Linked DNA regions of Homo sapiens. The protein of the gene in region 2 interacts with the protein of the main gene of each other region in a pairwise test. Each region holds a gene or a part of one and is shown on either strand. Other genes may lie near its edges.

What was found. The genes of interacting proteins can lie anywhere in the genome.
Region 1: the proteins of SLC12A1 (region 2) and USP40 interact in a two-hybrid assay, tested with the Homo sapiens proteins (one study listed by BioGRID).

What each region holds. Positions count from the first base shown.
Region 1 is NC_000002.12:233,475,025-233,480,012, reverse strand, and holds the end of USP40 (ubiquitin carboxyl-terminal hydrolase 40), read left to right. Parts: intron 1-2,509; coding exon 2,510-2,621; 3' UTR 2,622-4,487; downstream 4,488-4,988. UniProt on the Homo sapiens protein: May be catalytically inactive.
Region 2 is NC_000015.10:48,201,643-48,209,448, reverse strand, and holds the start of SLC12A1 (solute carrier family 12 member 1), read right to left. Parts: upstream 3,148-7,806; 5' UTR 3,119-3,147; intron 1,916-3,118; 5' UTR 1,730-1,915; coding exon 1,310-1,729; intron 1-1,309. UniProt on the Homo sapiens protein: Renal sodium, potassium and chloride ion cotransporter that mediates the transepithelial NaCl reabsorption in the thick ascending limb and plays an essential role in the urinary concentration and volume regulation. Electrically silent transporter system.

The DNA.
Region 1 (4,988 bases), on a different chromosome or scaffold from region 2:
AGTGGATTCTAGGAGGTAGAAGTAGAATCAGGGAGCCGAGCGAGGAGACTCCCTGAGTGAAGATGGAGGTGGGTAGGGACTGTGTGAGCTCCGCAAGCAGCACGGCCCCTGGGCCAGGGCCCCTTCCTCTCTGCTCTCCGGGGTCTGGGCTGCTTTCCGGACAGCACTGTCCCGTGGCCTTTGCTGACTCCCTAAGGGCCCCGGGAGCCCCAGGATAGCAAAGGACCTGTGCCTGGCCTCACCCCCATTCGCAGCTCTGCAGCCCTCAGGTCCTGGTGCCCTCAGAGACCTGGGATATGGGAGAGGGGCTGCAGCGCTGGCTGCTTCGGGGGTTTTCCTGTTTAAAGGTCAGACACACACACACACACACACACACACACACACGTAAAATTCTATACGTGTCTAATACATAGACACTAAAATACTGTTTTCCAAATTTTTTTTTTTTTTTGCGACGGAGTCCCACCTTGTCGCCAGGCTGGAGTGCAGTGGCACGATCTCAACCCACTTCAACCTCCGCCTCCCGGGTTCAAGCGATTCTCCTGCCTCAGTCTCCCAAGTAGCTGGTACTACAGGCGTGCACCACTATGCCCAGCTAATTTTTGTATTTTTAGTAGAGACGAGGTTTCACCATGTTGGCCAGGATGGTCTCAATCTCTTGACCTTGTGATCAGCCCGCCTTGGCCTCCCAAAGTACTGGGATTACAGGCGTGAGCCACCGCGCCTGGCTCTGTTTCCACATTTAAATGTGATGCCACTGACTTCATCAGACTTCTCCAAGCATCCTCTCTGTCAAAGCCTTAGTTGTCACCAGGGCTGTTATTTGGAGACATCCAATAGTTCCCCAGGCCCTGGGAGCTCCATTGTCATCTGTGCTGTTTGAGATAGCACATTTTAAAAATTCATGGTGCTGTCACTGAAAACCTCATCTTAAGCCTCACACGTGCTGTTTGCACAACAGTAGACCACTGGTGTCTTCTGAACACCGTGATGTAACCACTTACTATATTGTTTTTCATTTTTTTTTGGAGTTAATAGTGTCACGTGCTTTCAAAAGCCACCAAAGAGGTTCACTGAGAAATCTCTGCACCTCCCTCCCCAGGTACACAGCCTCTCCTAGATGGGCCAGCGTGACCGTCACCTGCATGTCCTTTCAGAGACCTGTGTATAGGGGCAGAGAAGCTTTCCTTTCTCTTTTGACCAGAACTTTCTTGGTAACCTTGCTGTTTTCATGTACCAGTGTGTACTCAGCTGCCCCGTCTCATGGTGGGAGCGTGGTGTCCTGATGCATGGGTAGACCACAGCTTAGGTGACTTATGCCCACCTCACACACTTCCAGGCTGTCGCCAATCTGTCACCATCACAGTGAATAACCTTGTATATTCACCATTTTGCAGTACAGATGTGGATATATCTGTAGGACAGATTTCTGCAATGGAATTGCTAGGTCAGAGGGTATGGCTGTAAACATTATCTGCAAATAAGAAAAAGACAACCAATCCAATAAAAATGTAGGTAAAGGGTATGAACAGTTCATAGAAAAGGAACTGCAAATCGCTTGCCAGCATATAAAAATATGCTCAGCCATTCACTCATGATAAAAGAGGTGTAAATTCAAGCTACTCCGAGACAGTGCCACATGCCTATTGGCAACACTAAAGTGGGAAAGACTCGTGTGTTGAGGACGCAGAGTCACTGGGGCTCTCATCCCCTGTGTGTGGGTGTGGAATTGGCACAGACACTTTGGAACTCAGGACAGTACCTCCTGCTGCATCTGCTGGGCACTTCCCGGTACCCAGCCTTCTACTCCTCAAAAACATGGACGCGTGCCTACCAGGATATCCCCAAAATTACAAGGCAGCTTCATTCACCATGGCCAGATTCTGGCCGTATTGAAGGAAAGGCTGCTCAGCAGTGGGATGGCGGGTGGGCCGCGGAGGCTTTCTGTCGGGGACTGTGCAGCGTGGGTGGGCCACACACATCAGGCTGGGCCAAAGCACCCGGCCGCAGAGCACCTGCCGCACGGTGCCATGGGCCGGGGGGGTCACAGCGAAAGCCAGTCTCTTGAGTGGGATGCCAAGTGGCCTGTCTCTCCGGGCAAGACTGAAGGGGCAGAGGCAGCCTCTGCATCATGTCACACAGGTGTGCGTGATTGTGACGAGTCGTGCAGCGGTGTGTGTGCACTCCGGATGTTATTCTTCCGTTTAAAAAGTACGGAAAGGAAGGTTTCTCAGCTGTGAGGCATTTTCACTGAGCAGATTGAGAAAGCCCCAGAGCCTGAACCATGCCGTGCTGCCAGTGCAAAGCAGGGGAAGGCAGCTGGCCTGGCACAGGGCTGGTGGCAGGGCAAAATGGGGCCCTCTGGCAGGTGGCTGAGATCTGTCTGTGCAATTGCAAATGCACGTCCTTGTGGCCTATAAAATTGGAGTGTATTTTGGGGTCTTCGTGAACCCCTCACCCTGACACCCACTGCATCCATGAGTCAATGACAGTGTCTGTGTCTCTGCAGCCAAGAAGCCCTCCATGAGCAGAGCAGCTACATCCTCTCCAGTGCAGAGACGCCTGCCCGGCCCCGAGCCCCGGAAACTTCTCTCTCCATCCACGTGGGGAGCTTCAGATAACCGCGCCGCTGCACGGCTCTACTCCCGATGAACTCTCCGGCTGATGCCACAAACGTGGGTTTCCTGGGCATGGGGACTGGCTGCCTGGCGCCTCCAATCCCAAATCCTCTGCTTCCTTTGAGCACAGGGACGGCTCCTCTGAGGCCTGGCCAGTGCATGTAGTCACTTAGCTCTGCAACACGTGGCAGCCACGGGGGCTGGTGCAGCTCTGGATGTCGCCCACCCAGCTGCCAGTAGGTGCTGGGCTCTCTCACACAGCACCCGGCCCCAGCTGCCTTTTTTTTTCTTTTAACCAGAAAATGCACAACGTGTGCGTGAACCGCAGGTATGGAGGCAGCGGCATGCCGTTGCTCCGCTGTGGGAGGTGTGTGGGGTCAGGCCAGCCACTTTCCTCCGTGTTCAGATGACTCTCGTTCGCCCTGACCGGCTTCTCACAGTGTCTCAGGCCACTGCGCCACCGCGCTGGTGCTGAGCAGAAGCGGGCAGAAGTGGGGTCTGCTTTCAGGACTTCATTTCCCCCACTCGTTCCGGCCCCGCATGCTCCACGTCTGCCCTTTGGTCTGAGTTAAAACTGCGATGCTGAAAAGTGCGAGCTCTTTCCACGAGGAGGAGCCACACAGGGTGGCCTCCGAGGGTGAGTCGCTCTGCTAAGCAAGGGCAGCCGCTGCACGTCAGCCCGCAGGCCAAGGGTCCAGCTTATCCTGGGTGCTCTGTGATCAGAAGGTCCTTGGATCCCGAGGACTGCAGCTGCTGCCGTCCACAGCGCCTCAGCCTCTCTTCCTGTGTGGAAGCGGGGCAGGCAGGGCTGTGGCAGACAGGCCTGGCATAGCCCAGGTTCCAGGTGTCCTGGGCAGCCTGACCGGTTTCCTGAGTAGCCTCAATGAAAACACCTGAGAAAAAGAAAATGTAAACTAAGGAAGGGTTTTCCCACTTAATCCAACCCAGATTTCTATTCAACTTAAAGGATTTAATTGGCATTTGTGAGAAATAATAGTACCTGTGTCACTGAGTTGATTGATTTGGGACATAGACGGTTGACTTTCCCAGACAGCAGCTTAGCGGAAAGCAGCATCCCGAAGACGGTGTCGCATGTCCTGAGCCTGCTTGTCACCTGGGCCTCACGGTTTCTCGTCAGCCCCGTCACTGATGGGAAGCAGCACTGAAGTGTGAGGGCAGAAAGGACACCGCTGGAGTCAGGCGCTCCCCTGCCTGTGACCCTTTTCCAACAAGCTGATGCTGAGCCAGCGGCCTGCTTTGTCCCTCATACTCCTCCCAACAGTCCAAACCCCTACCAGACAGAAGCCACGTCGCTTCTGCACACGTGTCTGAGAGCGTCTGCCATAGACGTCTGTGCGTTTCCGTGAAGCACTGCGCCCTAAGGACCCAACTCTGACTAGCAGCTGCCTCCCACTCCCAAACACTAACCCCGCTCAGGAGACTCGCACTGGGTGTAGACTGCGTCTTTGCAGAGGGAGATGATAGAGGCTTCTGATGACGCCAGAGCTGTAAGTGTCGTGACGAGCTGGGCGCCCAGCCCTTCTTAAGCTGTTCTGTTTCTGTGGCTTTAACTGACATATTTCTGTAGCATCTGCCTTCATCTCATCTCAGCGTAATGAAATATTAATGAAATCGCTGAAAAGCTTTGCCTTCGAGAGGCCAGAAGCCTCGCGGAATGTCTGCAAGTCCAAAGACGCGTGTGGGTTGTGCCCTGAAGTGCCGTCCAGCAGGCGCGTGCGGCCGGGCCGGCCTGTGCGTGTGGCCTTTGCCTTCTTCCCTTTCTTCCTGTTTTCTGTTTTTTTAATTTGGGGATTGAGAAAGCTGTACGATTTTGTTAAAGAAAAAAATAAACCATTTTTTAAAGTTGTAGCCCTTAGCTGCTTTTGGTTGCCGGCTACTTCGTGCCCAGCTTGCTTAAGAGAGGAACTTTTGGCCGGGCGCGGTGGCTCACGCCTGTAATCCCAGCACTTTGGGAGGCCAAGGCGGGTGGATCATTTGAGGTCAGGAGTGTAAAACCAGCCTGGCTGACATGGTGAAACCCTGTCTCTCCTAAAAGTACAAAAAATTATCTGGGCATGGTGGCGGGCGCCTGTAGTCCCAGCCACTCGGGAGGCTGAGGCAGGAGAATCGTCTGAACCCAGGAAGCAGAGGTTGCAGTGCGCCAAGATCGTGCCACTGCACTCCAGCCTGGGTGACAGAGCGAGACTCCGTCTCAAAAAAAATACATAAATAAAATAAGGAACGTTTGTGGCCCTTTTTCCCAAGCCTGCTTCAGATGCTAAATAAACAGTTTATATTTAGAAATACTGCAGCAGTGCTGCTTTAGAAATAACAAGTTTGCTTTGGTTTTAAAAAGTTCAGACTCATGGG
Region 2 (7,806 bases):
TGGAAGAGCAGGAAGATAAAGGTGATCAGTATATTTTGGAGAAAGTTATGGAAGAAGAAATCTACTAAGTTCTAAGATTGGAGGCCGGGCATGGTGGCTCACACCTGTAATCCCAGCACTTTGGGAGGCTGAGGTGGGCAGATCACCTGAGGTTGGGAGTTCAAGACCAGCCTGACCAACATGGAGAAACCCCATCTTTACTAAAAATACAAAAAAATTAGCTGAGTGTGGTGGTGGCACATGCCTGTAATCCCAGCTACTCAGGGGGCTGAGGCAGAAGAATCGCTTGAACCCAGGAGGTGGAGGTTGCGGTGAGCCGAGATCGCACCATTGCACTCCAGCCCGGGCAACAAGAGCGATACTTCGTCTCAAAAAAGATTGGGAAAAGTGCTGCCTCACTTCTAACAGACTTGGGAACCCTGGCTGTATTTCTTAAATAATGAAAAGTTTAGTCACTTCTGCTGCTTCTGTACTTTAATTTAGTTATTTTTATATGCTTAAGCACATTCAGGAGCCTCAGGCAAAGTTTTAAAGAGGAAGGGATAAAATGCTGAATCTTATAAATCTCTGCCCTTTCTTTAAAGAATATAAAAAATACCCCTACACACTAAAGGCTGTCACCCACAGTATTAACTACAGCAAGCACAAGTGTTTTGCTTTTTATACGATTGACATAGAGACATTAATACTGACGTGAAACCAGCTTGGTATTCAGTTTGACGTGTTTAACCAAGTGTGAATTGAGTGGACTATAATCATATACAAGGTACAACATATTGCCTAACATTTAGAGTTAATTCTTTAGTTCTCTATCCTAAGTCAGAAAACATTTGTGGAGCTGGGCACAGTGGCTCATGCCTGCAATCCCATCTCTTTGGGAGGCCAAGGTGGGAGGATCCCTTTAAGTCAGGAGTTCGAGACCAGCTTGAGCAACATAGCAAGACCCTGTCTCTACAAAAAATAAAAAAGTTAGTCAGGTGTGGTGGTGCATGCCTGCAGTCCCAGCTACTCAGGAGGTTGAGGTGGGAGGATTGTTTGAGCCCAGGAGTTCAAAGCTGCAGTGTCCACCACACTTCAGGCTGGGTGACAGAGCAAGACTTTGTCTCAAGAAAAAAAAAAATCCAAAGAAAAAGCATCTGTGAAACACTTTTCTGGGAACTAGGGACAGTTTTGTAAGTAAGATGGATAGTGTTTGGAATAGACCTCTCCATTTGACTGTTTCACATTCATTCATAGTGTAATGAAAGAGAAGGAAATTATCTGAAGTTATGAATAAGGGAGGAGACTTGCTTGTGTCCTTCAAGCTTACCTTTGCGAGTTGCTCGTGAATCTCAAGCAGGCTGGGTCGGTTGACCTTGGGCCCACTGATGCTGCCGGTGTTACGATAGTACTCTATCTTGGGAACGGCATCCATGGTGTTGTGGCCAAAAGTTTGTAGATAGTATGTGTTTGTGTGAGAATCATAAGCGTGAAAACTGGCATCTGTTTTAGCAGTTTCTCCACTTTGGAGGAAATTGTCATAGCACTCCTGATTCCCAGGCCTAAAGCTGATTCTGAGTCTTTTCTGAGCTTCATCCCCAAAAGAGGTTTCTTCATAATGTGGTGGGTCAGTATTGTCATCTGCAGCTGCACTGCTCTCATGGTTCTCATTTATGACACTAACTTGAAAGCGATTGGTATTACTGGGCACTGAATCCAGAAATACATTGGAAGAGTTGTTCAGTGACATCTTCCAAAATTGATTTTTTACTGAGCTATCTACTTTGTGGTTGTTTTAAAAAATCTATATATTTCTTCATCAAAATAAACACTAATGTGCTTCCATTAGGGAGCTCCTGGCTTTTGTTCTAGATGATTCAATAAATAGATTCTTGATATATTGTCTCCGATATAATCTTCAGGATGTTCTTCAAAGCTGTCATTGAAAAAGAAAATTAAACTTGTTCCAAGTAATACAAATATATTTAGGTAAGGGTGGGATATAAGGGAACAGTTTTATTTTACAAGACATACAATTTTAAACTCATTTCACTAAAATTTATCTGTCCAGGAACCTTAGTCATGTGAGTAATTAAATCTGATAATAAATAACTGGAAAACTGTTCCAGCAAACAGAACTTCCAATGCAGTCATTAAAATGTTACCTGTGTTTGTAGTATTTGCTTGAATTCAGTGCACTGGAGTTCACTGTGACTTTAGAAAAGATGTAACTTTACTTATTGAATACAGTAAGAGCTGATGAGAATATTCTCAGCCTAAGACACAGTTCACTGACAGTACTAAATGCTGAAACTGCAAAGTATTTTGATTGTTAGGAATATATACTATACAACATATAAAATGAAAAACAAAACTTCTAAAAAATATATTCTTGCTAGTTTATAAAAATCTGTACATGTTCAACTTATAAATTCCAAATTTTGTTACCTATGCAACAAGTAAAAAATTATGTTTTAGAATATGCATTTAAAAAATACATCCCATCAAGATGATGTCTCTGTGAATTCTTAGATCTTTTACAAGATCCAAATGTTTCATTTGCTCATACATTTGTTTGTTTTGCAAATACTAACATGAAACCTTAAAAAAATATGAATATAGAAATAAGTCATATATCTATAAGAAATAAGTCATATACCTTAAAAAAGTCCTCTGCTATGTTTAGGTAAAATAATCATGCTCTACTGACTCATTTTAATGAAATGTCTTCAATAATTGAGAGGTTTATATTTGACTGTGAGGTGAATAGACTTCACAATAATTTTCGCAATTTCATAGTACTGGCCTGTCTTAAAACACTTGCTTTAGAATTATATTTCCTTATTGATACCTTAAAATTTGGCTTTTCAAGGGAAGTTCTAGAAAAATGAGATAAATATAAATAAAAACTTGTCTCTCTCATGCAGTTATTAAAGCTGTGTATTTGAATTAAAAAAACCCTCAACTTCATTTCTCAAGTAACCTTTCCTGGGGAAATTATAAATGAAGCTATTATCGTTTTAGTTTTTACAAAACACTTCTCTTCATAGTCCTTGACACCCTCACCTACTCCTCAGAATCTACTTTATGACATAATATTAAGTATGATTTTTACCCTGCCCAGAAATGTTCAACTTACCACCAAGGAGCCTTCTTCTGAGGAAATGTAACCTGCTTCAGCGTCACCCAGGAATATATGGGACACTTAGCTTTCAGCCAGAAAGTTAGGCTTCTGCTTATTGGTTAGAAACTTTCTTGAAAGAGATGACTGTGCAATGATTGGCCTGGAATAGTACTGTAAGCCCCACCAGGTCATTAGCCCTGAGGAAACTTAAGTACCACATCAACTGGTAACTAGTAGTAAACCATTAATCCTTTTAGACAGGAAGTAACATAGAGTTTCTTTAATTCATAAGGAGAATTGGATCCCTTAACAGCAATTGTCCAAAAAATATGAGCATTGCCATTAGTCATTTGGGAATAGATAAATTGAGTTCCACCGTCTTACAGATGAGTCCTAGTGACCTCCTATTGTTTAGCATGTGTATCAAAATATAGTTCTCCAGAGACAATTTCTATACTCTGTAACTAGAAAGTAGTGTCTGAAATGATTTTATCTTGCTTGTAGTAGACATTACCTTGACTCTTTTGCATGGGAAGTAAGCAGATTAAGAGTGGAATCAATGATTTATTGAAAATATTTCTATTTTGGGAAATATGGGAAAATTTTTTTTTTTTGAGATGGAGTCTCGCTCTGTTGCCCAGGTTGCAGTGCACTGGTGCAATCTCAGCTCACTGCAACTTCTGTCTCCCAGGTTCAAGTGATTCTCCTGCCTCGGCCACCTGAGTAGCTGGGATTACAGGCGCCCACCACCACGCCTGGCTAAATTTTTTTGTAATTTTAGTAGAGATGGGGTTTCACCAGGTTGACCAGGCTGATCTTGAACTCCAGACCTCAGGTAATCTGCCCGGCACAGCCTCCCAAAGTGTCAAGATTACAGGTGTGAGCCACCGCGCCCAGCAGGGAAAACTGTTTTAAGCAGGAACCAAACTGTGGGTAAGCATCTCAGTGGCACTACTAAATGACCTTTCTGTCTCCAACTAGAAAAACATTTTTTTGTCCAACTCAGTTTTTGAGTTTTGTTGAGGAAAAGGTTTTTCTTTTTCAGATCTGCAAGTAGGTGATTATTAACACTGCAAACAATTCCTCCCTCAAGTCTGTCACTGATTATCAATCAGGATGATTGAATGAGTCCTCTTTGTTTCTTATAAGAAACGATTTAAGTGATTTCCAGTTGTCTGAGTAGCTCGGTTGTGGTGTAATATAGTGGCTAGGAGCAAGACTCAAGTCAGAAGGCCCAACTTATGTCGTGGCCCTGCCACTTGCTGTCTGTGTGAACTCAGTCAAGTTACTCAATCTTTCTGTGCCTTAATTTTCTCATCTGCAAATGCAGTTGTGGATTATAATTGTACCTACCTTGTTGTAGAGTTATTTTGAGGAATAAATGAGTTAGTTTGTGTATGGGGTTTAGAACAGCAACAATTTGTACCTAGTGCTTGCTTTCACTATTTTAGCGCTATTTACAATTAGCTGGGGATTTTTACTTAGCACATACAAGATTGTGAGGTGAATCATTAGAGATTGGGATAGATATTTTGTCTATAAAAAATAAGTGTAAAGGTAAGTTAGTGAACTGATACAGGATTATAGAAGTGTCTAGAGACACCTAAGTAAAACCCTTTAGATCCTCTTCGTTAAGTAAATGTCATGCTAATCAGTCAGGCTAATGTCGTGAGGCTATATCAGAAATAGAGACAGAATTACAAGTATATACCTATAACTCATTCCACTCTTAAAGGTCACCAGTACAAGGCATTTATCTGTTCAACAAAGGGTTCTGATTCCTCATATAGAAAGTGTTTTGGCATAGGAGTGTCCGATTTCAAATTCAGCTGGGTGGGGCTGGTTGTTTAGATCAAGACAAAGAACAGCTAGGATGGGGCTGGCACCCAAAATAAGTTCTATTCACCAGACCAGGACAGGAGCCATAAGCTGGCATCCTCCAACCCTTTTTGGAGCCACTTATTTACTCTACAACCTTTTTCCTCTACCAATGACTGTGAATACCTCTGATACCAGTCAATTTCCTTTTTCTTGCTGACTGACTGCCTGACTTCAGAGTGGTATGAATTTGTTTTAGTCTTGGTCTTATATCAACCAGACATTTTCATTCTAAGCCTTTTATCTCTCACTGTGAAATGAAAGTCTTTGTTCTCTTTTAAGGGGATTCAGGCATCCTGGAACAAATGGGAGACAGTTTTGGGGGATATGGATGAAATAACACCATCCATAAAGCCAACCTTGAAAGGTGAATCCGATTTAGGCCTTTCAGACAAGCGGGAAAGGTAACAGGAGCAAGCTATCTTGAGGTATGCTCCTCTATCTTTCCTCTGTCCTCTCTGACAAGGCTTTTGGGAAGGGGAAGCTAGAGGCTGATCCAACTGTGACACTGAACATCTATTCCTAGAAGAATTAACATTTCATGAAATTTCCATGTTGTTTTCATGTTGTAACCAGCCTTTTATATTTTTTATATTCTTTCTGTTTCTGAAAATACAGATACTGACTTTTCTATCCCCCAAACCACCCCACCCCCCAAAAAAACTAAGGCACCCAATAGACCACAAATAAAAACCACAGATGAAGACACTTTTGGTTAATAGAATTTTTCTTTAGTGGATTTGGAAATAATATTATGGTAGAGTTAATATACTTGAAAAGCTTATGGGAGTTGAACTTCCAGAAACAATGCTCATATTTCATAAAGTTTTCTTGGTTGTAGAGGTCTTTCTTCCTTTGAAATAAAGATCTGGCCTTGGTTTGTTCTAGTCATCAAAATGGAGGGTCTTGGTGGGTGTCTTCTCTGGGAGACAAATGAAACATCTGGTACTTTAAAAGCCTTGGTCAACAAAGAGACCTAGTTTCCTGGCACACACAATTTTCAGTATGTTCAGTTGAACTTGGCCCAGTGGCCTGTTCTTGGGCCAAGTTACTAACTGGCTATGAGGTGTACCAGGCCTACACTCTTGAACCAACTGGGGTACAGAGAGCCTCCTTGAGGTGAGGATTTGGTCCAGAAGATCCATAGCTAATAACAGATATGTTCTAAATCTATTATGAGATGGAAAGCATCAAGGAATCTCACAGAGACAGCTGGTTTTGGAATTCCATAGACCTGAGCAGTAACCATGCCTATAAGCTATGTAGAAGTGTTGAGGACAGTGTCTAGGGATACAGCAGAAATCAAACTGCCCAAGTTCAATCCCTAACATAACCATTCCCTAGCTATGGTGACCTTGGGAAGCTAGTTAATTTCTCTTAGCTTCAGTTTCTCTTCTGCAAAATTAAGATTAAAAATAAAATGGAAATAGTAGTCTCCAACTCAAAGAATTTATAAGAGTATCAAATAAATTGAAAGTAACTAACTTAGTGCTACCTCTTGGTAATATTAGTCTTGTTCCTTCATGGTATGTTTTGCAGTTCTGTGTTTTCAAAGGACATAAATATTTTTGTATTTATCTCCTGCTATGTTCCTCCATTCTGACTCATAGAGAGTCAGAAGTTTGTAGTTGGAAAGAATTTAGAACTATATAATTTTATCTTTTTATTTCTCAATTGAAGAGAATGAAATACTAGAGAGATTGAATAATTTACACTAAGCCATTGCTTCTTAGGGTTTGAGAATCTCTATTACTGCTACTGATGAGGACAATAAATATTGATAGCAAGGTATGTTTAGATACTGTTTTATGGTTTACAAAATGCTTTCACATTCATTATATCTAATTGGCCCTCTCAATATTGCTGAAGACATGCAGGATGGGTTTCTTAATTCTTGTTGTGCAATATAGGTTCCCTTTAGGTAACTTTCTAGGTCATAAAGCTAGTTCTTGGCTAAGCTAACATTAGAATTCAAATCTCTGAGTTTAGGCTCCTAATCTGAAAAACTTTTCATGATATCTTAAATCCTCATTCATTTCAGATCTCTGGGTTTTCAGATACATTTGTAGCATTCATAGGGCACTAGAATTGAAAAGGATGTTAACACTACTCTTCACTGAAGCTCACAGAGATTAGATGACTTACCCATTAGAGCATAGCTCTACTGGTGGCACAGCTGAGACTGTCTTTGTTTCTGCTTAGAGTACTCTTTCCACTAGGTCATGCTGGAAACTCCCTTTTAAATTCTATTTATGCAAGGGGTAGGGGAGGGAGCATCAGTATGAGGCAGATCTGGTTTGGATTCCAAGCTATGGGATTTTACTGCAAGAGATTCGACAAACAGAAGAGATAGGAGGGTCAGGGCTCTGTGAAATTTGGGGAGCTTTAGGGCCTGTGACTACTTGTAGGCTTTGGGTGTTAGATTTTTGAGATATTTTTTCACCTGTGAACCTTTTGGGCCTATGGTTATTATTAGACAAATAATATTTTGATTATTCTTTGGACTAAATTCTCTGTTTAAGACCTGACTCACTAAAGCTAAAGGGGTCTGAGTCAGGAATGTGGAGGGGATGCCTGGGCTTTTCAGAGGGGAGAGAGCAAGATGCCTTTGGCACAGTTTATTAGCACAAGAAAGGAAGCAGAAATTCAAGGCAGTTGTTCAAGATAAGAATAAAGATGGTAAACATGGCGGCAGCCATCCTTATGCTCTATTCATTGGAAACCTCTAAGTGGGAACAGAGGAAAGTGAGGAATCCCAACAATAGTTTATCATTTACACAGCATGGTGAAGAAATTAGTCACAGATGTTTATTGAATTCACTGAA